7 linked regions of the Homo sapiens genome follow. The protein of the gene in region 3 purifies or fractionates together with the protein of the main gene of each other region. This does not show direct contact. Each region holds a gene or a part of one and is shown on either strand. Other genes may lie near its edges.

The links.
Region 1: the proteins of FGF13 (region 3) and NOC3L purify together in Homo sapiens (affinity purification with mass spectrometry; one large-scale study listed by BioGRID and IntAct). This does not show direct contact.
Region 2: the proteins of FGF13 (region 3) and U2SURP purify together in Homo sapiens (affinity purification with mass spectrometry; one large-scale study listed by BioGRID and IntAct). This does not show direct contact.
Region 4: the proteins of FGF13 (region 3) and DHX8 purify together in Homo sapiens (affinity purification with mass spectrometry; one large-scale study listed by BioGRID and IntAct). This does not show direct contact.
Region 5: the proteins of FGF13 (region 3) and ZFP62 purify together in Homo sapiens (affinity purification with mass spectrometry; one large-scale study listed by BioGRID and IntAct). This does not show direct contact.
Region 6: the proteins of FGF13 (region 3) and LARP1 purify together in Homo sapiens (affinity purification with mass spectrometry; one large-scale study listed by BioGRID and IntAct). This does not show direct contact.
Region 7: the proteins of FGF13 (region 3) and RBM28 purify together in Homo sapiens (affinity purification with mass spectrometry; one large-scale study listed by BioGRID and IntAct). This does not show direct contact.

Annotation. Positions count from the first base shown.
Region 1 is NC_000010.11:94,332,726-94,335,832, reverse strand, and holds the end of NOC3L (nucleolar complex protein 3 homolog), read left to right. Parts: intron 1-1,114; coding exon 1,115-1,199; intron 1,200-1,527; coding exon 1,528-1,656; 3' UTR 1,657-2,607; downstream 2,608-3,107. UniProt on the Homo sapiens protein: May be required for adipogenesis.
Region 2 is NC_000003.12:143,032,570-143,036,069, reverse strand, and holds part of U2SURP (U2 snRNP-associated SURP motif-containing protein), read right to left. Parts: intron 3,287-3,500; coding exon 3,124-3,286; intron 2,800-3,123; coding exon 2,720-2,799; intron 1,183-2,719; coding exon 1,095-1,182; intron 89-1,094; coding exon 1-88.
Region 3 is NC_000023.11:138,631,718-138,635,217, forward strand, and holds part of FGF13 (fibroblast growth factor 13), read right to left. Parts: intron 1,270-3,500; coding exon 1,133-1,269; 3' UTR 1-1,132. UniProt on the Homo sapiens protein: Microtubule-binding protein which directly binds tubulin and is involved in both polymerization and stabilization of microtubules.
Region 4 is NC_000017.11:43,521,975-43,526,170, reverse strand, and holds the end of DHX8 (ATP-dependent RNA helicase DHX8), read right to left. Parts: intron 4,125-4,196; coding exon 3,945-4,124; intron 2,544-3,944; coding exon 2,324-2,543; 3' UTR 501-2,323; downstream 1-500.
Region 5 is NC_000005.10:180,851,277-180,854,776, forward strand, and holds part of ZFP62 (zinc finger protein 62 homolog), read right to left. Parts: intron 785-3,500; exon of another isoform or gene 712-784; intron 218-711; coding exon 1-217. UniProt on the Homo sapiens protein: May play a role in differentiating skeletal muscle.
Region 6 is NC_000005.10:154,796,877-154,800,376, reverse strand, and holds part of LARP1 (la-related protein 1), read right to left. Parts: intron 787-3,500; coding exon 618-786; intron 505-617; coding exon 335-504; intron 1-334. UniProt on the Homo sapiens protein: RNA-binding protein that regulates the translation of specific target mRNA species downstream of the mTORC1 complex, in function of growth signals and nutrient availability.
Region 7 is NC_000007.14:128,312,909-128,316,408, forward strand, and holds part of RBM28 (RNA-binding protein 28), read right to left. Parts: intron 2,113-3,500; coding exon 1,856-2,112; intron 367-1,855; coding exon 267-366; intron 1-266. UniProt on the Homo sapiens protein: Nucleolar component of the spliceosomal ribonucleoprotein complexes.

The sequences.
Region 1 (3,107 bases), on a different chromosome or scaffold from region 3:
GTTTGCAAGCCCATTGGTTTCTGTAATTCAGAGATCATAGTTTGGTGACCTGTGGGCCAGGCCGATTTTTCTGGCCTCAAGAGTTTGAAAAAAATTGAATTAGTTGCTGTCTTTTAAATATTGAAAGAATTCATCTGAAATTCACATTTCCCGCTTTTCTTGAAATACTGGGAGGTTTGGTGACATTGGCTTGTATTTTACATGACAGTAGTCAGTCAGTTGCTGCCTCCTCTACATGAGGCAAGAGCTCTGCAGTTTTCCATGAGCCCTTTCCTTCTGAGTAGGATGGAGATAACTTTTGGCCTTATTAAATAAAATGGCCATTTACTTTTTCTTCCCTCACACTTCTCACCTGTCCCCAGTCTTCACCCCACCAGCCTTTTTTTTTAAAAGGAAAAAAGGAGAAAACAATTCTTTGTCACTCTTCATAATGATTATTTTATGGCATGTTTTCCTTAGCAGTTTTGCTAAGGAAAGATGTTTCCTTTGTGGAGAAGGATGAGGAATGAGCTTATCCCAAAGGCTTAAGAAAGGAGACTCATAGTGGGCTTCTGGAGAGTGGGTATTGGGATGTGAGCCTAATTGCTACCTTCGTAGGCCCTTGCCTATGTGTTTTGGCGAGTGTGAACTAATTCCAAATCATTAAGGATTCATTTACACGCCATGGGTATAGACATGTATTCTGTCCTGAATGGCCTTTCCTTGTTTTTCATCCAGGCCAGTAGCTGAAGAGTTGAGCTGTGTTCTAAGTCTGTGGAGAATGACTCCATGCTTCAGTCCTCTGGCTCCCATGACTAAGATATACTTAGTTGCATTATCAGTGGGTTGGGATTTGATCACACTGAACTGGAGTTCTTCAGCTTAGCTTTCTCTCTGGAGTCTATGCCTGTATTGCTAAATGTATACCAAACCTCTCTGAGGTGGATTTAGTTGGATAATGTTGACATTACAATGGGAATTTAGAATTTGTTAAGTGACTGGATTGGTTGGTTAGTTTCAAATCTTATACCTTAATATATGGGTTAAGAATGAATCATTCTCTGAGTATAATCTAATTATTTTTGAGTTACACAGATGTGGTGGTATCTTTACATTTTTTGTGTTTGTGATTTAGATCTGCTACTGAACTTTTTGAGGCATATAGCATGGCAGAAATGACATTCAATCCTCCTGTTGAATCTTCAAACCCCAAAATAAAGGTATGGGATATTTTTCATTTTTTTAAAGGAAGAAATAGAAACCAATGTATCTCAATAACTCTAACTCCAGTTTGCTTAATTATTTTATAGGTAGTTTTTTTTTTAATGTTTAGGATTTCATCATAGGATGGATTTCTGAGGTTGAAATTCTATAGAGATGATCATGAAACTGTTCGTTCAATATAGGATATGTCCAAGACCTTACCAAGCATCTGTCATTGTGTTGCATGTGTTGGTGTCAGCTGTTGCCATTTTCAACTTGGTTCACAGGTTGGCTTTAGCTTATAGCATAAGTAACTTCTAACTCATACTTTAAATATTTTCCTAGGGTAAATTTTTACAAGGGGATTCATTTTTGAATGAAGATTTAAATCAGCTAATCAAAAGATACTCCAGTGAAGTTGCTACTGAATCGCCTCTGGATTTCACGAAATATTTGAAAACATCACTACACTAGTAGAGGAATGAAGTCAGTGGACTTTCTTGTATATTTGTGTGTGCAGATGTACATAAAGATGAGTTGTTAACTTAGGATCTTTTCTTTTTATACAAGGAAAGCTTCCTAAGAATGTCTAGGAAGAAGAGGAAGAATGACCCTTTGCATGGCACAGGGTTCTGCCCCTATTCTGAATATGTCATTCCATCAAGGAGATCAAAAGCCTTTTTTTCTCCCCAGTATTTGGAAATTACTTTCTTGATGATGCTGCCTTTTAAAAGCTTCACGTACATTATAGTTTTTTAAAAAAATCTTTGGACTGGATCTTACTGAAGTGCAGTTGCTATATTAAAATTAGGGCATAGAGCACAGAAAAATCAAGACCATGAGAAGACATTTTACCATTTAGCTACTTTTTATAACTAAATACTCTTTAAATATTTTTATTTCAATACTGTGGATGGAAATGAGAAGCATTCTAAATTTGAGTTAATATATTTTTATGAAGATATTTGAGAAAAGAAAAAAATAGCTTGTATTCAGGTTCATTGGCTTTTGCTGGATGATCCACCTAAAGAAGTTACCTAATTTGGCCTTTTAAAAAAGGTGTTAGTGTTTATTATAGCTACTTTCAAGGAAAGTTTGAATATGATTCTAGTCTCTAAAGTTCTTCACGTTTTCTGACATTCCCTGGAGGGTGACTGGGGAAGAATTGCTCCAGGGTAGAAGAACCAGGCCCAAGACTTTACCATTCTGATCTAGAGACAAAGGATACTCAATGAGGAGCTTTTTTCCCCTCTTGGAACAGGTAAAATGCTTTTTCTTATTAATATAATTATAAAACAGTATTTTATGTAACAGCTATTCCCATATTCTAGGAGTGGCCTAAGAAATGCGTGTTTCAGTGACTAGATTATAAATATTCTCTATTGTGAATAGTTGAATAAAACAGCTGTTTTTTTCTGCTTCCTATTCTTGTGATATGATAATTTTTTGAAAAAAGCACAGCAGTCCAACTAAAGAGATCTCTTACTGTTTGAAAGTCATAGCAGCCAGTTATTTTACTCTGGAGCTTAGAGTTCTTTTTTCACATGAAGTAAACGAAAGTAGAAAATTCCTTTACCATTCCAGCAGAGTGAGAGGATATGAGCTTAACAGTGTATGTCAGTCTTTTAGCATATTATATATGATTTTTAAAAGTGGTTCTGAGGTCACATTTTTTAAGGCTTGATTATTTAATGAGAAAGGTATGATTCAGCATATGAATATTTGCTTTTAGTCCACCTTTTAGGTATAAAACAAAGTCCAGGAATGTGATAAATATTTGTGTGGATAACCAAAGGGTCTAATCCCCATCAGAGCACAAGTGACCAATACATGTCACAAATTATTTATTTTCCACACATATACAAATACATTTATACTTTACTTTGGCAGCAGAAACTATACTTCTGGTGAAAAATCAGCTTAAA
Region 2 (3,500 bases), on a different chromosome or scaffold from region 3:
CTAAGAAAATATTTTGTAGTTTGATCAAAAATGGTTCTGGATAAATTGCCCAATCTTCCCATGCTCTGAAGCAAGTCATTACCCGTTGCTAAAGAAACAGGAAACAGACAACAAACTTTTATTTTGGGCTATATGTCTCAAATTTCAGTTCATGAGAATGATCATCAAGATTTGCTAAATTTGCCTTTAAACTGATGTTTTTTTAAACTTTAAAGAAAATAACTATATATCATTACCATATTTTTTAAAAAAATCAATGTCACCTTCTAATTAAAAGGAAAAAAACCCCTAAAAATAAATATAATGAAAAATAAACAGTAACTATTTGCTCTTTACCACCTAAGGTCAGCTCCCATACCATTAGTACTACCCATGAGCCACATTCCAGAAACACTTACATAGAAACTTACTAAAACTGGAAACCAAAGTAGCCAAGTTTTGACCTGAATCCCTTATGGTCCAATAAAGTACTTCCTAATTCTGGCTAATACTTTACTCTGTATCTTCCTGAAACTTGTCTTTAAATTCTAACTTATGGTCAAAATTTAAGGTCAAAAACTTTTAAAATGGGAGTTGTCTGAATGCCCTAAATGGTGGCGTCACTGGGCATCTTCCGAAACTAAAAATTTTTCTTAAAAAAGTCTTCTTCCCATGAAAGCATATTTACTTATTCAATTATAAGTGAAGTACTACACTTGGCTTTTCTTAACACTGGTCTAGAGCTTAAGAGGTTATAAAAAAATTGGTAACAGAATAGACTTTCTAAACATGATTAAAATGTATGTCTTTAATCCAGCCAAATAGTATATACCATTACAAAACAAGTGATTCTTCTGTATGTTTTATGAAAAAAGACTAACATTTATAATTTTTAAACAATATTTAAAACTAAAATTAAACCTGACAAAATAGTATCTTTTAAATTTTTGATTTGATAAAAACAAAAACGACAGAATTTTAAAACAGTAACTTCTGTAACATCTAAGTTTTAAATTTATGTCTCATACTTGTCTTATGCACTTTTCTAGCCCTTCAATGCCCTCCCCCCACCCATTTAAAACACTAGGGCAAAAATAGTAAAACAATAAACGTACCTTAAAGTTTTCAGATTGTAAATGGCCTTGAATTGTACGATAGGTGGCATTGAGGTCTGAAAATATCTGACATAACTTTGTTTCAAAACTGAAATTCAAATAACACATTCTTTAAAATAAAATGTTTAAAATTCCTTTCCCTTTTAGCATGCCAGCCAATGAAAACCCCTCCTGAACTTAAAATACTTACAAATCAAGAAATTATTAAAAATCAAAAACTAGGTGTTTAAACTCTAAAACCGTAACTGAATTGCTTGAACTCTTATTACTCTGAATTTTTCTCCTACAAACTCCCCAACAGTCCCTACTAGTTCCCTTTACGAGCAAGAAACGTTATATCTAGGATATGCTGAACCATCTCGTCCAATTTCTTTATTTTATAAAACAGAAAACTTAGAAAAGTGACTCGTCCAAGGCAAAAAAACTAATAGCAGACCTAAGAGTAGGATCCAGCTCTCTAAATTTCTTTTCAGAGCAACATCCTAGGGAAAAGCTTCCCTTTGCCTAATTCATAAAATAAACACAGAAAGAGAGCTCTGGGGAACAGAGGAAAAGTTATACTTTTTTTTTTTTGAGATGGAGTTTTGCTCGTCACCCAAGCTAGAGGACAATGGTGCCATCTCGGCTCACTGCAACCTCCGCCTCCCGGGTTCAAGCGATTCTCCTGCCTCAGCTTCCCGAGTAGCTGGGATTACAGAGGCACACCACCACGCCCAGCTAATCTTTGTATTTTTACTAGAGATGGGGTTTCACCACGTTGGCCAGGGTGGTCTCGAACTTCTGACCTCAGGTAATCAGCCCTTCTTGGCCTCCCAAAGTGCTGAGATTACAGGCGTGAGCCACTGTGCCCAGCTGAATTATACATTAATTATAATACAGCAACGTAACTTCCTTTTGCCTTAGGAAACATTTACAATGAACTAAAATCAATATGCTGAGGATCAGAAGAGAACACAGATTCTATAGTTAATAGTATGTCTTTGGTCTCTTATGTTTGCCAGTATATACACTGTTTCTATTTATTATATGAATAGCTAGATATGCAATAAAGTTCTCTTTAACACCTATTTGTTATACTGTCAATAGCTAAGAAAGTGATATGATATAAAATCTTTCCAAAAAATTGGTAATTTAGCTTAAGTGTAAGCCAATTTTTTAAAAAATTCTACAAACCATTAAGAAATTCAAATTAGTCTTCCCTCAGTATCCATGGGGGGACTGGTTCCAAGACCTCCCATGGACACCAAAATCCACAGATGCTCAAGTTCCTGATTGAAAATGGCATAATATTCACCTGTAACCTATCCTCATCCTCCCATCTGTTAAATCATCTCTAGGTTACTTACAATACCTAATACAATGTAAATGCTATGTAGAGTTTTCATACTATATTGTTTAGAAAATGACAAGGAAAAAAGTCTGTACAGGTTCGGTACAGATACAATTTTTCTTCTCAAATATTTTCAATTCATGGTTGGTTGAATTCATGGATAAGGAACCCACAGACATGGAGGGCTGACTGTACTTCTTATTCTTGCAGGATGTTAACAAAACAATCCTCTTTTCTGAACTCCTTACCCTTAAATACTTTATTTCAGGAATATCAGTTATATCATTATACTTACAATTTTCTATAATATGAAGCATTAGCAACTTTGGCTGAAGAGTTGTACAAAACATCAGAAACCAAATATAATCTGGCAATCTATAATATCAAAAGATAACACAAAATAGGTTAATATAAGGCTAATGTTTAGCTATAATTTAATTATGGCTACTAATTAGAAGAGTTATATGAAGCTCAGTATCACCACAACTATGACTCTGGCAGAGATGAAATTTGTTAACCCATTTACATTTCAACTTGTTTGTTAACTTGTATGTTAATGAACCTAAATTTCCAAGCAGAAATAACATAAGACTGCATGGGAAAAATCTCATCAGTCAAGTGCTTTGTGCAAAAAGGAAACCAATTCTAATCCCAAAAGACGTCAACTATCTCCCCTTTTCTTAAAATTCATTCCCATACCTTTTTAGGAAGGGGTGTCTTTAAGATGGACAACGACTCAGTAATGCAATCCACTATTTCTTCAGCAGCTTCAGCATTATTAAGACAGAAAACCATTGCATCTCCAATATCATTTTTCCTTGGAGTTAATCCCCGCAAGATTTCTTCCAATTTATCCCTCTGTCTGAACATAAATTGTTTTAACTTATAAATATTTAGATACAATTTCAAATGCCATTGTAGCTTTTGCTCACAAACTAATTTCTTTAAAACCTACTCACATAAAATAATTCTGAAGACTGTAATACATTCAGTCTGATTTGTGTTGTGTCCCCCAAAATTGTTACAATTTTTTGAAGAATTTATATAAGAATACTCTGTAGAATAAGATTCCAATT
Region 3 (3,500 bases):
AATTATGAATGCACAAAATCTTACATATCATGCAACTCTATGCCAAGAACCCAACTTTCTTCCATGCAACAGATATGAAGATCTAAATGGAAACCTAGCTAAGTCTTAAACACTTTTCCAGTAGCAAGTATAATATATGTTGTTGAGGGAAAACCAGTCTTAACAATTCCTTGTACACAATATTCATGTGCCAAATACAATGACAGGAAGACTCATACATATACAGATAAGACATTTCTTATTTTAACAACACAAAAGACAACATCACAGTTCCACAGTTCCTGTCTTTACACAAGAAGCCACAACAATAGTTTAACATGATACACAAATGGAATTAAGAGAAATCTACACTTGAGGATAATTTTTTGAAGTTCTCTTTACTGACTGGGGTTGACAATACAACTCAATTTCTACGCACAAAGTACAGCACAATAACTTGACCAGAATACCACAAATCTAAAAAAAAAAAAAAAGAAAGAAAAACAATTGGTCAAACCACAAGAACACTGTTACCTTGAGCCTGAGAAGCCAATTCAGATTCAACCCTGAATTTGGTTGATTTGGATTAAGTGACGCAAAAAGTCAATAGAACCATTGAATTTCAGAAATCATAAAGTTGCACTATGCCAAAGAAAAGAGTACATGTGAATCAAGCGTAGATAGAAAACATCAAGCCAAGAAAACAACACAATTCACATAATTTTGTTTGCCCCGACAAAACATTTAAGCAGTTAATTTTGTTTTGTTTTGTTTTGTTTGTTTTTGAAGAACAATTGTGGTCTTTTACATTTTCTTGGTGGGAGAGCAAATTTTGATCAGCATTAGTGCTGTGAAATACTTTTGGATTATCATCCCCAAAGTATAGGTGAGATCATGAGAAAATTTGGCAGTCCTTCTCTCAGATTTAGTTCACTAAAATGCTTGGCATTCTTATGCACAAGCTCAATCTAAATAATGGGGCTTTAGTATGGATGATAAGAAGGTCTAATGGCAGATAGAATAGTGAACTCTGCCTGTTTGTTTGGTAAATGTCACTGACAAATTTGAACTTTTGGGTGAAGGACTGCTAGAAGAATTCAACAGCACCTGGAGGTAAGGTTCTGTTACAGAGCCCTTCTTTTGCCCTCACTGGCTACGTTGATTCATTGTGGCTCATGGATTTGCCTCCGTTCAGCACGCCAGAGACACTTCTGCTCTTGGTTGGGGTCCCGCTTCCAGATCGGGAGAACTCCGTGAGATCGTGCAGTGATGGCTCCTTGTACATGGCCACTGAAAAGCACACAAAGATGGTGTAAAAGGCCTTCAAATGGGCATACCAATTGTGAAAATTTCTAAGAATAGTTTGTAGGTGTTCTATTCCACACACCTAAATGATAAGTATGTGAGGTAATGCATATGTTAATTAGCTTGATTTAGCTATTCCACAATGTATACATATTTCAAAATACCTTGTTCATAATAAATATATACAATTTTTGTGTCAATTATAAATTAAATTCAGAAAAGGAAAAAGAGAAAAAAAATACATTAAAAAAATGGGCCTACCACACTGGTCCTCAACTTTTCTTTTGGTTACTAGGCTTCTGTGCCTTAAGCCAGACATGAAAAACACTGCTTTCAAGGACTCAGTAGAGAGTGGACAGGTTCAGATTAAGCAAAAATCTAGCCTTGGTGTAGTAGTGTGTAAAGAATTTTAATGCCTAACTTCAACCACATATGGTTATGTAAGAGAGGATTAATAAAAAATGCATTTAATAAACCTCTTAGAAGTTTAAATATGATCTATAGCATACTGTACAAGGCAAATATTAAAATTTAAAATATTTTAAAACACTGATTTCTATCATACTTTAAAATGAAACACTTCAAGAGTCTAAGTATTGGATAATTCTTGGTACAGTAAATGGTAAAATTTATTATTGTGCTATAAATAAACATAATAGCTTATAGTTATGGAACACATAACATTAGATACTACTCTAAGTTCTTTGCATGCATTATCCCATTTAGTCCCTATGAGAATCTTATAAGTACTCTTATCCATATTATACAGATGAACTTGAGGCATACACAGGTAAATAACCTGTTCAAGACCATCCAGTTAGCAAAAAGTGAAGTTGGGCCTTGAATTTAGGTAGTCTGGCTCCAAAAAATGTGCTGTAAAACACAGTGCTGTGCTTATTCGAATTGCACAGTGTCTGCCTCTACTCTAAACCCCTACTCTTACCTCAGGCTAGTAATCTCTTTGAAGTCTTCCTCTGCTTTGCCCGCATTTTCTGTCTCTTCTCTACCATATCTCACTATTTCTTACCTCCCTATCTTCCATAGCCTATTCTTGTCCCTCACCCTTTCTAATTTGCTATTAATCTGCTAATAATGATGGGAAAACTATAAGCAAAATTTGCTGAAATAATATGTTGGGCCCTTAGAGAGGACCCAAGGAGCTTTCTGGTAAGTGTTAAGTGTACACACATTTTTTTTTTCTTTTGTTTTTTGAAACGGAGTCTCACTCTGCCGCCCAGGCTGGAGTCCAGTGGCACGATCTCAGCTCGCTGTAAGCTCCGCCTCCCAGGTTCACGCCATTCTCCGGACCTCGTGATCCGCCCGCCTCGGCCTCCCCAAAGTGCTGGGATTACAGGCGTGAGCCACCGTGCCCGGCTGTGTATACACATTTTTAACACCTATGTTTCTGCCCAGGCAACATTTTAGCATAATTTGGGGATCTTGGCTGTCCTGAGTTAGCATGTAAGTTACTTCCACATAAGTAAAGTGTCACTATATGTACATGCACTATGGAAAAATTAAAATCAGGAGAGCAAATGTTTTTGAGTGTTACAAAATGTAAGTTTTTTAAATAAATGTCTTAATGTGGAACAACTGTTTCATTTTCAAAAGTATTATTAAGGACTGCTTTAAATTACTATTTCTAAATGTTCAACATCACTAATCATCAGGGAAATGCAAATTAAAACCACAATGAGATACCACCTTACTGCTGCAAGAATGGCTATAATTAAAATGTCAAAAAACAACAGATGTTGGCATGGATGTGGTGAAAGGGAACACTTTTACACTGCTGGCGAGAATGTAAATCAGTACAACCACTATGGAAAACAGTATGGAGAATCCTTAAAGAACTAAAAGTAGCATTGGATCCAGCAATCTCACTCCTGGCTAGCTACTGAAAGGAAAATAAGTCATCATATGAAAAACACAACTGCACAGGTATGTTTATAGCAGCGCAATTCACAATGGCCAAAATATGGAACCAACTTAAGTGCCCATCAATCAACGAGTGGATAAAAAAATGTGGTATATATATACACCATGGAATACTACTCAGCCATAAAAAGAAATGATATGATATCTTTTGCAGCAACTTGGATGGAGCTGGACGCCATTATTCGAAGTGAGGTAACTCAGGAATGGAAAGCCAAATATTGTATGTTCTCACTTAAGTGGGAGCTAAGCTATGAAGACATAAAGCATAAGCATGATAT
Region 4 (4,196 bases), on a different chromosome or scaffold from region 3:
GCAAGCTCCCCTTCTGCATCTGGACAGGACCCCCCCCTTCTCCCTCAGAGCAGGCTCAGCTCAGCTGCTGACATTGCTTTCCTGATGGTCAAAAGGTCAGAACCCAGCTATGTTGTCATAGCAGAGAAGTGACCTCAGCTCTAGCGTAGAGAGATGGTCAAGGAACACCCACAGAATGGGGATCCTTCTTTTTCCTCCACCTGAGCCAGAAAAGATAACGAACCCTGCTGTCTCTTATCCTTAGCCCATTCAACATCCCTTTTCAACCTCAGCTTGAAACCCAACCCTCCCTCCCCAGGTGTCAACATTGTCAGTGCTGGGCACTCAGTCAGGACAGGCTGGGCCACTATATCCAGGAGTGTTTCTGAATGGGGAAAATTTAGGCTGGAATTAGGACTGGGAGCCAGGTGTGGTGGCATGCACCTGTAGTCCCAGCTACTCAGGAGGCTGAGGCAGGAAGATCACTTGAGCTCAGGAGTTTGATGCCAGCCTAGGCAAGATGGCAAGATCCTGTCTTAACAAAAACAAAAACAAAACGAGATTGGGGAGGTGGGTGCCCAGTCCCCGTTTCCCCTTTGGTTTCATTTGAGGTCCCTGTACTGTCTCTCCCCAGAAGGCCTTCAAGGTTAACACACAACAATGCCCTGCCCCTTGATTACTGGCCTGGGCTTACAAAGGCGAATACTCAGACAGAATCAGGAGGCACTCAGCTTAATGAAGGGGCAGGGATCTGCAGCCAGCAGATTGCCTGGCCTATATTCCTCTCCCTCGGACTCTTTCTGAATTGTCTTTAGGGTGTGGTTTGCTGCCCAGTGACAACATACATTCCTTTATATCCTGGAATGTTACATAGTCTCTCTTAGTGTCTGGCATACAGTTCTACAGTAGTTCTAGCATTTACATCACTTCAGAACTTACTAATAACATAAGGACAGGAGAAGCAGCAACGTAACAGGATGTGCCCAATCTCTCAGAAGCTTCTCTACAAGCACTACATCCAGACCAGCTTTCCGTAAGTTCCGAAACCTGGCCTGGCAAGACCTGCCTGATGTTCCGCCAGGTAAGGAGCCTCCTCAGTGCAGAGGACAGTGGCTCTCAACTGTAATCCCAGCGCTTTGGGAGGCAGAGGCAGGAGGATTGCTTGACGCCAGGGATTGGAGAGCAGCCTGGGCAGCACAGTGGGAACCCATCTCTATGGGAAGAAAAAAAAAAAACCCTCCTCAGGAGCTGTGAGGAGGGCACAAGGAGGTGGCTATTCTCCAAGCAAGTGCTAGGAAAAAACCACTAAGAACAAGCCCTGCAGCACAGATACTGGCAGCACAAACCAGCTGAGAGGAGAGGTGTTATGTTTGTTTTCTGTTTGGAGTGGGGAAAGGGAGGTTTTGACCATAAAATCCCTTTGTTAAAGTCCATCCAGGACCTCAGGGGAAAAAAATAAAAACAAAATAAAATAAAAGCTGTGTTGTTACTTAGTATGTTTCAAAAGGAAATGGGACATGCTGCACATTGCGAATGTGGGAGGTGGAGGGAGCAAGGGGAAACCTTCTGTATTTAATATGTGCCATCTGTAGCCACTCAGGCCTCCAGACTGAAGTGCTCTGTGGAGAGGACATGGTTGATCATCGGGTGATCCCCCAGCACGGCCCGGCTAGTGCTGATGCTGAAAGACAAGGCTGGAAGTCTGGGTTGTACGTCGTTTCCGAGCGCAAAGAGGCCCTGCGTTCTGGTTTCAGGGGATTCAGGGGATTCTCATCATGTGTGCCAGAGCACAGATACTAAATCTCCCTCACCCTGAGCCCAGGCCAATATCCTAACCTTTCGGCTAAAAGAAAACAGTCACAGAAAACCATTTTTGTTTCCTTAAGAAAATAAATATTTCCACGAGGTCAAGCCAAAGTACAGGGGCTGGAGACGGGGTGGGAAGTGGGGCAAACACTTTAGATGAGCACAGTAGCTCCTGCTAGCTGGGGCATCAGGGCACTCACCATGTCCCTGCACAAGATGCTCACCCACTCCACCTTCCCATCCTGGAGCTGCACAAATTGTCCCTTTCTTGAAGTTGATGCAATGTGTCTCTGTGTTAGATATGAGCTCCCAACTGGGCCCAAGGACTTGGGGTGATGGAGGCTGCAGGCTCTTGCCAAAGCCAGGTTTAAATCCCTGTTTCTATTTTACCAGCAGGGAAGAAATGAGAGTCGAGTTGAGAAAATGCTCAGTTAAGACAGTCAGTCACGGGACAGCTGTATCCTCAGGACCAGCCTGTCATCGATAAGTCCAAGCCCTGGCTACTGCTGCTGGAGAGGCAAAGGAACAATCTTGCCTTTCAGCGCCGTCGGAAAGCTCGAGATATTCTCCAGGCATTGGGTTCCTCATAGCGGTTGTACAAGGGTTCAAGACGCTGTTGCTTCTTCTGTTTGCTTAGCTTAGTTGGGTCTGAGACCTTGAAGAAGGCTGGGGCAAACTCCACAAGCCACCGAGGGTCGATGGTGGTAACTTCACGCATGTATTCCTTGGTGGTGAGCACCAGCTCATGGTACACCACCCTGAGGGGGGACAGAGATAGTACTCAAGCCTCTGGATATAGGCCCCACTCTACAGTCAACCTGGTCCCTAGTAGGCCTCAGCTGAGCTTACATTTTATACTATTACCTCTCCTGCCTGACACCTATAAGACTGCAGTCTGTTTATGACAGCCACACCCCAATACTGAAGCACCCGCACACCTCTAACCACAAGAAAGGTCTCAGGAGAATGTATTCTAGTCCTGGCTCTGGCTCTAACTAGTTAAGTGACATGGAGCCAATCACATCCCTTCTCTAATCTGTTTCTTGCTCTATAAAATGTGAGGATGTTTATTAGAATGTTTCCACAGAATTCTAGGGCTCTGAAGAGGGGCCTCACACTGCCACAAGGGATGGAGAAGGCCAAACATGCAAGGAGCCACATTTCTAACCCTTCTACTGTGATAACATGGTGGTTTTAAATCAGTTTTATATTAGGGTTCTAGATAGAGTCCAATTTTTTAAAAATGCTACTTTAAAACAAGTTTTTTTTTTTAAACTACATCACTAGGTAGTTGTTTTTTTCTTTCTTTTTTTTTTTTTTTTTGGGACGGAGTCTCACTCTGTCTCCCAGGCTGGAGTACAATGGCACAATCTCAGCTCACTGCAACCTCTGCCTCCCGGGTTCAAGCTATTCTCATGTCTCAGCCTCCCAAGTAGCTGGGATTACAGGTGCCTGCCACCACGCCTGGCTAACTTTGTATTTTTAGTAGAGACATGGTTTCACTATGTTGGTCAGGTTGGCCTGGAATTCCTGACCTCTGGTGATCCACCTGCCTCGGCCTCCCAAAGTGCTGGGATTACAGACGTGAGCCACCATGCCTAGCCCCTAGGTAGTTGGTTTTTTTTTTTTTTTTTTTTTGAGATGGAGTTTCGCTCTTGTTGCCCAGGCTGGAGTGCAATGGGTGATTTCGGCTCACTGCAACCTCCACCTCCTGGGTTCAAGCGATTGTCCTGTCTCAGCCTCCCAAGTAGCTGGGATTACAGGCATGCGCCACCATACCTGGCTAATTTTGTATTTTTAGTAGAGACAGGGTTTCTCCATGTTGGTCAGGCTGGTCTTGAACTCCCGACCTCGGCTGATCTGCCCACCTCAGCCTCCCAAAGTGCTGGGATTACAGGCATGAGCCACTGTGCCTGGCCACTACGTAGTTTTTTAAACCACAATTTTTTTTTTCAACTAGGTCTCACCCCTATGATTTTAATTCTCTCATAGGGTTTGATACATTGTGCCTAATTCAGGTTTCTGCTGCTCTAGAAAGGCAAGCAGTGTTATACTAGGACATACTGGGAGTAGTGAAGACACAATCACAAAATACCAGGAAATTTACAGGTTTTTCTCTGCCCAGAAAAGCCCCTAGACCCTGGGACATGTCCACCTACCATTCTGGCTGTCTGTTGAAGAGGGCACTGGAAGGATGGATATAGACCACCTGCTGGTCGATCAGTGTCCGGTAACCCTCCTGCGGGTCTTTCTTGGCAGCATTACGGAAGAACCCACTGCAGATGGCCTTCTGCACTCGGACTGTGGACTTGCCACAGGAAACAACATCCAGCTTGTGTCTATCAAGATAGGACAAAAGATATGAGCCCACTCAGCTTTCACAGGTCTATTTTCACAATGACAGTGCCCAA
Region 5 (3,500 bases), on a different chromosome or scaffold from region 3:
CTGATTGCTTCCCTGATGCTGCTTTTGTCCTCCTTCATCCTGTTTTCCACAGGCTTTTTCTGTTGATTCTCTACCTTGCTATCCCAAACACATGTGTCACCAACCTTAGATTCAGGCATAGGATCCTCCACTTTTGGCCACTTAGATGCTGCATTTCCAACATTTTCATATTCTTCAGTTGGTTCCTCATCCTCAGTGCTCGTCTTCAAATGTGACACTAAACCAAGAAAATGAAAAGGACACCTATTCACTCTCTTAAAAAAAAACAAAAACAAACTGGAATAACAATGAACAACATTCACTTGACAAACATTTACTGACAACATACTGTGTGACAGGTACCATGTGCCATGTACCGGTTTTTAAGTACTAGGGATACAACAATGAATATGACAAAATTTCTGCCCCTGTGGAACTAATGTTAAAATGCTAGAACCCTGGATTTTCAATGGAACAATGAGCTTTTCTATTCTTGCATAACAGCTTAGCATAGGGCAGGGTGAAATGATGCACAGAACCATGGGCAACACCAATCAGTTTTTAAACAATGTCACCCAGTCATGGAAAAACAAACAAGAGGGCAGAAGAAATCTCTGAAGAAGACAGAAAAATTCATAAGTAGGACAAAAGTTAGGTAAAACTTTTTTTTATTATGAAAAGTTAGACAAAATCAGCAGAGGACAGACAAAACTAAAGAGAAAAAATTAGTACCTGGGGAGGGGTATCAGGGAGAAGGCTATGAAACCATGAAGACAGTTACTGCAGAGATGAGGAAGAAGGCAACCTGCATATTAAAATATATTATTAAACGTCTATAATTAAAATAGTATGGTCCTGGTACATAGACAGGCAAATGGAATAGAACAGGAAGTCCAGACATTGTCCCAGGTAGACACAGAAATTAATGATACAGATGATATCTGAAATTACCAGAGAAAAGATGGTCCTTTTAATAGTGTTGTAACAACTATGAAGCCATATGGAAAAAGATAAAATTAAGGCTGGGTGCAGTGGCTCACACCTGTAATCCCACCACTTTGAGAAGCTGAGGTGGGCGGATCACGAGGTCAAGAGATCGAGACCATCCTGGCCAACATGGTTAAGCCGTCTCTAGTAAAAATACAAAAATTAGCTGGGCGTGATGGCACGCACCTCTAATCCCAGCTACTTGGGAGGCTGAGGGAGGAGAATCACTTGAACCTGGGAGGCAGAGGTTGCAGTGAGCCGAGATCGTTCCACTGCACTCCAGCCTGGTGACAGAGCAAGACTCCGTCTCACAAAAAAAAAAAAAAAAAAAGATACAATTAGATCCCATTCTTCACACCATACACACATGAATAAACTCCATATGGAATAGAGCTCTAAATATAAAAAAGCTGTACAAATGCCAGAAAACATGGGTAAATGCCTCTCTGGCCTGAGTATAGAGGAAGCTTTCTAATGATGACTCATATGCAACAAAAGACTGATACATTTTCAAAAACTGAAGAAAAATAAACTACAAATCATACAGGAAAACAGGTAAAAAGATGAACAAACAATTCTTTTAAATGGTCCTTAAACATTCGACTTGATTCATAATGAGAGAAAGATAAATAAGAACTACTGTAAAACACCACTTCTCACCTGTCATATTAGCAAATGTTCAAAGCTTGACAATACACTGTTGATAAGGCTGTGGAGGAAACAGGCACTCTCATACACTGCTGGGAATGCAAACTGGCACAGCCCCTTTTAAGGGGAATTTGCCAATATCTATCAAAACTACATATGCATTTACCCAGAAGTCCTACTTTAGGAATTTATAATGAAGATACACCTCCAACAATATAAAAAACATACATGCACAGAGTGACTCATTATAGCATTAATTGTAACTGCAAAATCTGGAAACCTACATAAATCTCCAAGCACAGAAGACTGGTTAAATAAACTGGAGCATATACACAACGGAGTACTGAAAAAGGACGAGGAGCGCTTCTGAATTGATATGGAGCAATCTGTATATCCTAAAGTCAAAAGGTCAAAGTGAAAAAGAGTAATATACATGCTACGTTTCGTGTAGGAAAGAAAACAGGAAAACAAGCACGTATGTGTTTCTCTTTATAGCAACGATAAACCAGAGAACAATGAGGTTCATCACCTACAAGGGAGGAGTGTGGAGAATGGAGCAGAAGGGATGGGAGAAAGAGAGAGACTCCGAGTATATAGCCTTTTTAATAGTTTTTACTATACAAAATACATAATATTCTACATATTCAAAGAATAAAATTAAACATCAGTGAGGATGGGAAAGGAGAAAAACTGCTAAAACAAAACAAATCAACCTATTTGCATTTCCCATGAATACCACAATCGCAGGAAGAGAACAAAAAAGAAATACAGAAGTAATCCAGGCAACTTAGAAACGTATTTGACTACGTAAGTACATTCAGTCTGGGGAAAGCTGGAGGCGGGGCAGTGGGAAGAGGTACAAATAATTCAACTGTTAGCAGGTTTTCTGTAGAGGTATGAACAAAGCGATTCTGAAACAACTTTAGATGTATTAAGAACCTGAGTAAATGTGTTGATTTTGTTGGGCTCAGGGCTCTCCTAGAGAAAGGGACATAAAAATAAGCAAGAGAAGAAGGCGAAAATGAACCTTGGGATGAATTTGCAGTACTGGTGTGAACTTATGATTTCTAAATCACATATATGTGCATGCATGTATATTCAAGCCTGTATGGCTGTATGCATATATTTGCATATATTTCCTGATTTCCTAGTTCTGTTTGCTGAAAGCCCAAAAAACAAAACACTCCAGTGGTAATGAGCACATCTAGTACCCCATTCTGGGTCTACTATTACCATTATTTACTAAAAGGAACCAGAGCTCCTCAAAGAAATGGCTGATTGCAGGCTGAAAGCAGGAAACATACAAGATGAGCATCATGCTATACCAGCAAGTAAAGAGAGGCTCAAAAAAAGGGTAGGGACACGCTGCAAGACCCAGCTTGAACATCCAGTGTTCAAGCACCGTAATAACTAAGTATAGTGATACATTATAAACCACTGAAGATAGGATTTCATGAGTCTACACAGGTACAAACAGGGGAGAAAGGGAGGCCTCTTGCTTACAGCAGAATGTGAGTGCTGGTTGATAAATGTAGAAGGAATACCAGAATTGGAAAAGTCAGCACTCTGCAACTATCAGAGTAAAGACTGGATCAGGAGAGAATCATCAGTGAATTCTACGTCTAGGAGGAAATTCTGACAAGGAGCAGGATATCCGCATGGTCTTAAATATTTATAATGCTTAAATTATTTACAAGGGGGAAAAATACAAGAGTGGAGAGACAATGCCTTGGCCAGGTGTTCTAATTTAACACCTCCAGAGGGGCAGATAGACATAATATGCTTTTAGTAGGGAGAAGGACACATCACCTATGAGAATGCATTACATGAACTGAATCACCAGGTAAACCCAAAACGAACAATGTTTTCTACTAAAACAGAGGGTG
Region 6 (3,500 bases), on a different chromosome or scaffold from region 3:
CAGCCCCAGAAATTTAGATGGAGCAAAAAGAAGAGCCAAGAATCAAGAAGCCAGAAACATCGCTGCCAGATGCTGCATGATCCCTTAAGAAAAATGTCACCGAGGAACTCACACAGTAGGGCGCCCTAAAGGGTGGTTCCCCACAGGAAATGGAAACAAGCCAAATCAACCTTTCTGTAGCCACTACTGGTAACTTCAACTCACACTATGATCCTGAACTACCCAGATTTCCTGCTGGCCCCTCAGAGCTAGAGTGCTGTGCCCATGTGTTATCCCCTTCAAGCACCCTAGCTCAGAGTGCTAGAACCAAGGCAAGGGACAAGGCCTCACCCACCTTGGGCCGTGCTGGGGATGGCCGAGGCCTCTTCTTCACTTCAATCCAGTTCTCAGAATCCAGGTCAGGCAGGCTGGCAGACAGGCCCTTGGGTAGTGTCTTTAGGTTGCTGACCTCCTCTGTTTTGGTTGGCACTGGGGTGACTGCACGAGGAGAGCCAGGTGCCGACTCTAAAGGGTGGAAAGGGGAAGTCCTCATCCCTCCAGTCCTCCTCCTGATGCCAGCCCTGAGGAGGACTGTTGCCCAGAGGACAAGGGCAATCTTCATGCCAGCAGGTACCTACCTGTCTCCTTTTGGTAGTGCTGACGGGGAACAAATTCAGGGCAGTTGAGAAGCTGGGAGAAATCAGTCTGTGAATAATCCACTATTGGGGGAAGAGGCCACTTTTCTGGTTCCTCCCTCCTACGAACTTTCTCATCAACGATCTCCACCACCTTGCTGTCCTTTAGGGCCTGAAGGGGAGGAGAAGGAAGAGGGGATTAAGAAGAAAATCTTGGACAGAAAGATCTTGGAAATGGTAGACAACTGGGTTCCCCTGAGCTTGGTATGAGTCCAATGCTACCAGTAATATAAGAAAATTGACACCATCTTCCACGACTGGTAGATAATGTGAGATGTTCAAACTTGTAGGAGGTACCAGCATAATAAATACACCTACCCTTTTACTCTTTGAGCCTGCAATCCTACTTCCAGTAATCTGCTCTAGAGAACACTTGCACAAACAGGGAGCAGTATGTATAATATCTGGACAAAAAGCCATTCACAGTAAAACTAGAGTAGAAAAAGAACTATAAAATACCTAACTTGCCATCGCATAGGCAATTTAAATATTTACAGCATATGCATGATGGAACACTACTCAGACATTAAAAAACTTTACAGGTCGGGCCTGGTGGCTCACGTCTATAATCCTAGCACTTTGGGAGCCCCAGGCAGGCAGATCACAAGGTCAAGAGATTGAGACCATCCTGGCCAACATGGTGAAACCCCATCTCTACTAAAAATACAAAAATTAGCTGGTTGTGGTGGCACACGCCTATAGTCCCAGCTATTCGAGAGGTTAAGCAGGAGAATCGCTTGAACCCAGGAGGTGGAGGTTGTGGTGAGCCGAGATGGTGCCACTGCACTCCAGCCTGGGCGACAGGGCGAGACTCCGTCTCAAACAAACAAACAAACAAACAAACAAAAAAACAACCAACTTTACATGTGCTGAGGTGGATAAACCCACAAAATATTAATCAAAAAAGCAGGCTGGGTACAGTGGCTCACACCTGTAATCCCAACATTTTGGGAGGTCAAGGTGGGTAGATCGCTTGAGCAAAGGAGTTCAAGACCAGCCTGAGCAAAATAGCGAGACTCTATCACTACAAATCGTAAAAAGGTGGCGCTGGCATACATCTGTGGTCCCAGCTACTTGGGAGCCTAGATGGTTGAGGTTGCAGTGAGCTTTGATAACACCACTGTACTAACTCCAGCCTGGGCAAAAGAGCAAGACCTAGTCTCAAAAAAACAACCAAAACATCCATCTATAGGAGCAGCAGTTGAAAAAACATGGAGCATTCCACACAATGGTGAACTATGCAACTGTACACAGGAATGAGGAATATCTTTCTATTATATACTGCTACTTTGCAGTTAGCTCCCAGATATATTAAGTTAAAACAAAAAAGAATTGAAGAAATGCCATGTGTTGTATATTTCCATTTACCAAGGATACAAATACATGTAGAGGCATTTGCTTTTTTCTTAAATGGAAAGGTTCTAAAAAGTTTGCCTGTAAGAGAAGAAAGGGTGTAAGTGACAGAATTTAAGTCAGACTTCTATGACTATACCATGCTGAGACTCTAGAACCACGTAAATGTTTTACACAAATGTAAAACAACTTAGAAAATTATAGGGGTAGGGAGAAAGCAATCTCTAAAACTTGGAAGCAAAATAAAACTAATATATATATCAATTTAAATGTGAAACCACACAAAGATTCTTTCAAATGACTTGAAGATACTGTATAAGTGGAAAAACTGTTTTCAGTGGTAGTGGAGGTATTGTAAGAATGTAGAGCTTGGCACAATGGCTCACGCCTGTAATCCCAACACTTTGGAAGCCGAAGTGAGAGGATGGCTCAAGCCCAGGAATTTCAGACCAGCCTGGGCAACACTGCAAGACCTCATCTCTACAAAAAATTTAAAAATTAGCCACACGTGGTGTGCACCTGTAATCCTGCTACTCAGGAGGCTGAGGCAAGAGGATTGCCTGATTTCAGGCGGTTGAGGCTGCAGTAAGCCATGATCACACCACTGCAATCTAGCCTGTGAGAGCAAGACCCTCTCTCTTTAAAAAATGTTTAAAAAAAAAAAAAAAAGACGGTAGACATACTGTGAAATAAAACAAAATGAGTAATTATGTTGGTATCATTAGGAATTAAGATTATGGGCATGGAAGAAAGCAGTAGGTAAAATAAAAGATCCACAAGTCTACGTAAAGACCCTTTAATAGAAAATACCAGAACAGGCCGGGCGCGGTAGCTCATGCCTGTAATCCCACCACTTTGGGAGGCCGAGGTGGGTGGATCACCTGAGGTCAGGAGTTCGAGACCAACCTGGCCAACATGGTGAAACCCCATCTCTACTAGAAATACAAAATTAGCTGGGTGTGGTGGTGCATGCCTGTAATACCAGCTACTTGGAAGGCTGAGGCAGGAGAATTGCTTAAACCTGGGAGGTGGAGGTTGCAGTGAGCTGAGACCATGCCACTGCACTCCAGCCTGGGCAACAAGAGTGAAACTCTGTCTCAAAAAAAAAAAAAAAAAAAAAAAAAAAAACAACAACAACAAAACAGAATAACTCCATGATGTATTTTATCTCACCAAAAAACAAAAAAATCATCTAGAAAGAATGACCAACCAAGTAGCAATAAAGCACCCCTATAACTCAGACTGGTATCTAAATACCATTTCCCAAAAGAAAGGAACTAGAATTCCTTTTAAAAGTGGCCAATTCCAGATCTGGGGCAGGAAATGTATAGGGTCCCACTGACCAAAGGTGGGACAATTTGATCCAATCCATTAACTGCAATGGACCAAAATAAATACGTTTGAGCCCATAAGCTTATAATAACAAATGATACGAAAACAAACCACCAAATCTCACTGGTCACCTATGAAACC
Region 7 (3,500 bases), on a different chromosome or scaffold from region 3:
CTTTAATATACTCTAGTGGGGAAAGCATGTTATGGGGAATATGTAAAACAAGGAGACTGCTGAAACACAGGAACAGATACGTGGAGGTTCATTTTACTTTTTTCTCTCCACTTTTAAGATTGTATAGCTCAACATTCTCTAAAAAGCTACCGTCCTACACAGAAGTCTTTCTTTTTTTCTTTTTTGCTCAACTAACCAAGGTACAAACATGGCTACGACCTGGCAGAACCATGCCATACCAAAGCTGTATGTCCTGCAGAACTCACCTGCTCGGACGATAATTGCTGCTTCTCCTGCTTCCACTGGTTTATCTGTGGCTTTGGCTTTTTGGGATGGACGGGCTTCACTTTGCCTTTGTCCCGCAACCTGAAATAACATGGCTGAGTGTCACCTTGAGTCCTTCTTCTAATTTGACACCCCTAGGTTCTCTTTGTACACTGGCCCTTCCCAAGCCCATGATAAGTGAAGTCATTCTAAAAAGGGATACTGCAACAGACCCTCTGAAAGCTCAACATTTGTATACTTAGGACTGCTTGATGCCAGGAGTTTGAGACCAGCCTATGCAACATAGCAATCCCCCGTCTCTACTACAACGAAATTAAAAAGTCCCAGCTACTCAGGAGGCTGAGGAAGGTGGATTGAGTCCAGGAGTTGAGGTTACAGTGCGCTATGATCATGCCACTGCACTCTAGCCTGGGCAACAGAGCAAGACCCTGTGACATGGTTTGGATCTGTGTCCTTGCTCAAATCTCACGTTGAATTGTAATCCCCAGTGTTGAAGGCTGGGCCTGGTGGGAGGTGACTGGATCATGGGGATGACTCCTTCATGAATGGTTTAGCGCCATCCCCTCAGTGCTGTTCTCGTGACGGTGAATGAGTTACCACAAGATCTGGTTGTTTAAAACACTCCCCCCTGCTCCTGGCCATGTGATGTGCCAGCTCCCACTTCACCTTCCACTATGATTAAGTTTCCTGAGGCCTCCCTAGAAGATGAGCAGCTGCTGTCATGCTTCCTGTACAGCCTGTGGAACCATGAGCCAATTAAGCCTCTTTTCTTTTCTTTTTTTTTTTTGAGACGGAGTCTCGCTCTTTCGCCCAGGCCAGAGTGCAGTGGCGTGATCTCGGCTCACTGCAAGCTCCGCCTCCCGGGTTCACGCCATTCTCCTGCCTCAGCCTCCCCAGTAGCTGGGACTACAGGCGCCCGCCACCGCACCCAGCTAATTTTTTGTATTTTTAGTAGAGACGGGGTTTCAGCATGTTAACCAGGATGGTCTCGATCTCCTGACCTCGTGATCCACCCGCCTCGGCCTCCCAAAGTGCTGGGATTACAGGCGTGAGCCACCGCGCCCAGCCAAGCCTCTTTTCTTTATAAATTACCCAGTCTCAGGTATTTCTTTATAGCAGTGGAAGAACTGAATAATACACTGTCTCTAAAAATAAAATAAATAAATAAATAAAACCCCATGGATATCTCAAAAACCTTCATTTATTTAACAAATATTTTGTAAAGATTTACTTTTGTAGAGCACTAATCTGCTGTCCCAAACAGAAACTACAACTGAACCTCAAGTATGTGGTCTCAGCTGGCAGAGATGGCCATCTGGACAAGAGGAAGCTCTTCAAAAGAGGAGAAAAGGGGCACAAAAGCCTGCCCTAGGAGGCCCCTCTGCCATTGATCTAAGAGTGACATCTCTGATGGTGTTGAAGACTCGCGTGTTAACCCCATGTGTGGGAATACATAGCACCAAACATCCTTTTCAACCAAACAAATGCCACAAAGAGAAAATAACTCAGCAAAAACAAACCCGCTTAGAACCCACCCACTGTTCTGTGCTTCTGCCCTCCTGCATCTCACCTGATTTTGGGGCCTCGGTGTGAGGGGAGCGCCAGGACCTTTCTTCTCTTCTTTCCATCAGGCAGCTCCACCTGCTCCACTTCAGCCTTGGTCTGGAACCCGGTCCATGAGGTAGAGCCCGCCTTTCTCTTCTGCTCTGGGGGCACCTTGCTTTGTTCCTCTGTGTGGTGTTGAGCTGCCTTCTGTTGCTGGTCTTTTGCAGGCTCTGGTTGCCCCTTCTGAGGCTCACCAGTTGCAGGCTTGGATCTCATTTTTTGCTGCATAAAACAAGAAAATGCCATCTGGTTTCTGGATGAGCTTTGTTTGCTGCAAATACTCAGCAGAAGATGAGCTTTATGTGAGCTAGATGAAAGAAGAGGAATTCTTCCCCCACACAATTGGAGACTAGAGGAAAGTGAATACATGTAGATCACAAGCCCTGCCACAGTAACAGATGGTTACTGGGTGGGGGGCACAAAATAACCATTCCCCTTCCCATAACACAGAAATAAGGGAGAGTGCATGCCCAAAATTCAAAAGTCAGTAGGTGGGACAATTATCAAAGGTGTAACCTATGTAGAAGGAGAATACAAGAAGAAAGCAAGCAACAGAAAAGATAATGAAGTAATAAGGGCTGAGAATTTTTCAAAACTAATGACAGTCACTAAACCACAGATCTAGGAACTCAGAGAAGACCAAATAAGATAAATACTAAACAATTTACAACCAGTCATATCATAGACAAACTGCAGAAAATCAAAGATAAAATCTTGAAAGAAGCCAGACAGGGGAAAAATTTTACCTATAGAGGAACAAGGATGAGATTACATCAAATCTCTCTCTCTTTTGTTTTTAATAGGCACCCTCCCAAACCAGAGTAGATTGAGAGAGATTTCCAAGACTTCTCTTCAGAAACCATGTAAGCAAGAAGGGAGTGAAGTGAGATATTTAATATTTAAATTTTTAAAAGAAAAAAAAATCACCAACCTACAATCCTGTATCCGATAAACTTATCCTTCAAAAGTGAAGGAAAAGACTTACTCAGACAAAAGAAAATGGAGAGAATTTGTTGCCAGTAGACCTGTCTGCAAGAAATGCGAAATAATCTCTTCAGAGAGAAGAAAAATGACATAGGTCAGAAACTGATCGTTTTCAAGAAAGGAAGAACATCAGGAATGGAATAAATGAAGTAAAGACGACAAGAAAAAGATGCTGTGGGAAGGAAGGCATCAAGGAAGTTATAGAAGTATTTGCACTGAAGTGGAAGAAACAGAAGATTCAAGTGAAATTAATGTAATGATAAGTGTGTGTTGTTCTTCCCTTTCACCTTAGAAATCTAGATAGGTACAACGATACAATGAACATTTATTATATGCCTAGTGTGTGCCAGTCTGTTTCCAGGATACAAAAAAATAGTGTCTACCCTTCAGGACTCACAGCCAGGTGGAGATAAGAGATGCATTCACAAATAAACCAAAGTAAAAAAAACTACACAGCTTAAGGAAGTTCATGAAAATCAAGTAAAGAGGGCCTTATATCTTTTGAGAGAGGTGGAGGCATGCAACTTGAAAGAGATCATTTGATCTGCATATGCAAAGTGAGTAGAGGCATTTTTACACAGAAAGAACAGTATGAATATAAATCCAGGCAACAAATAAAGTAATTT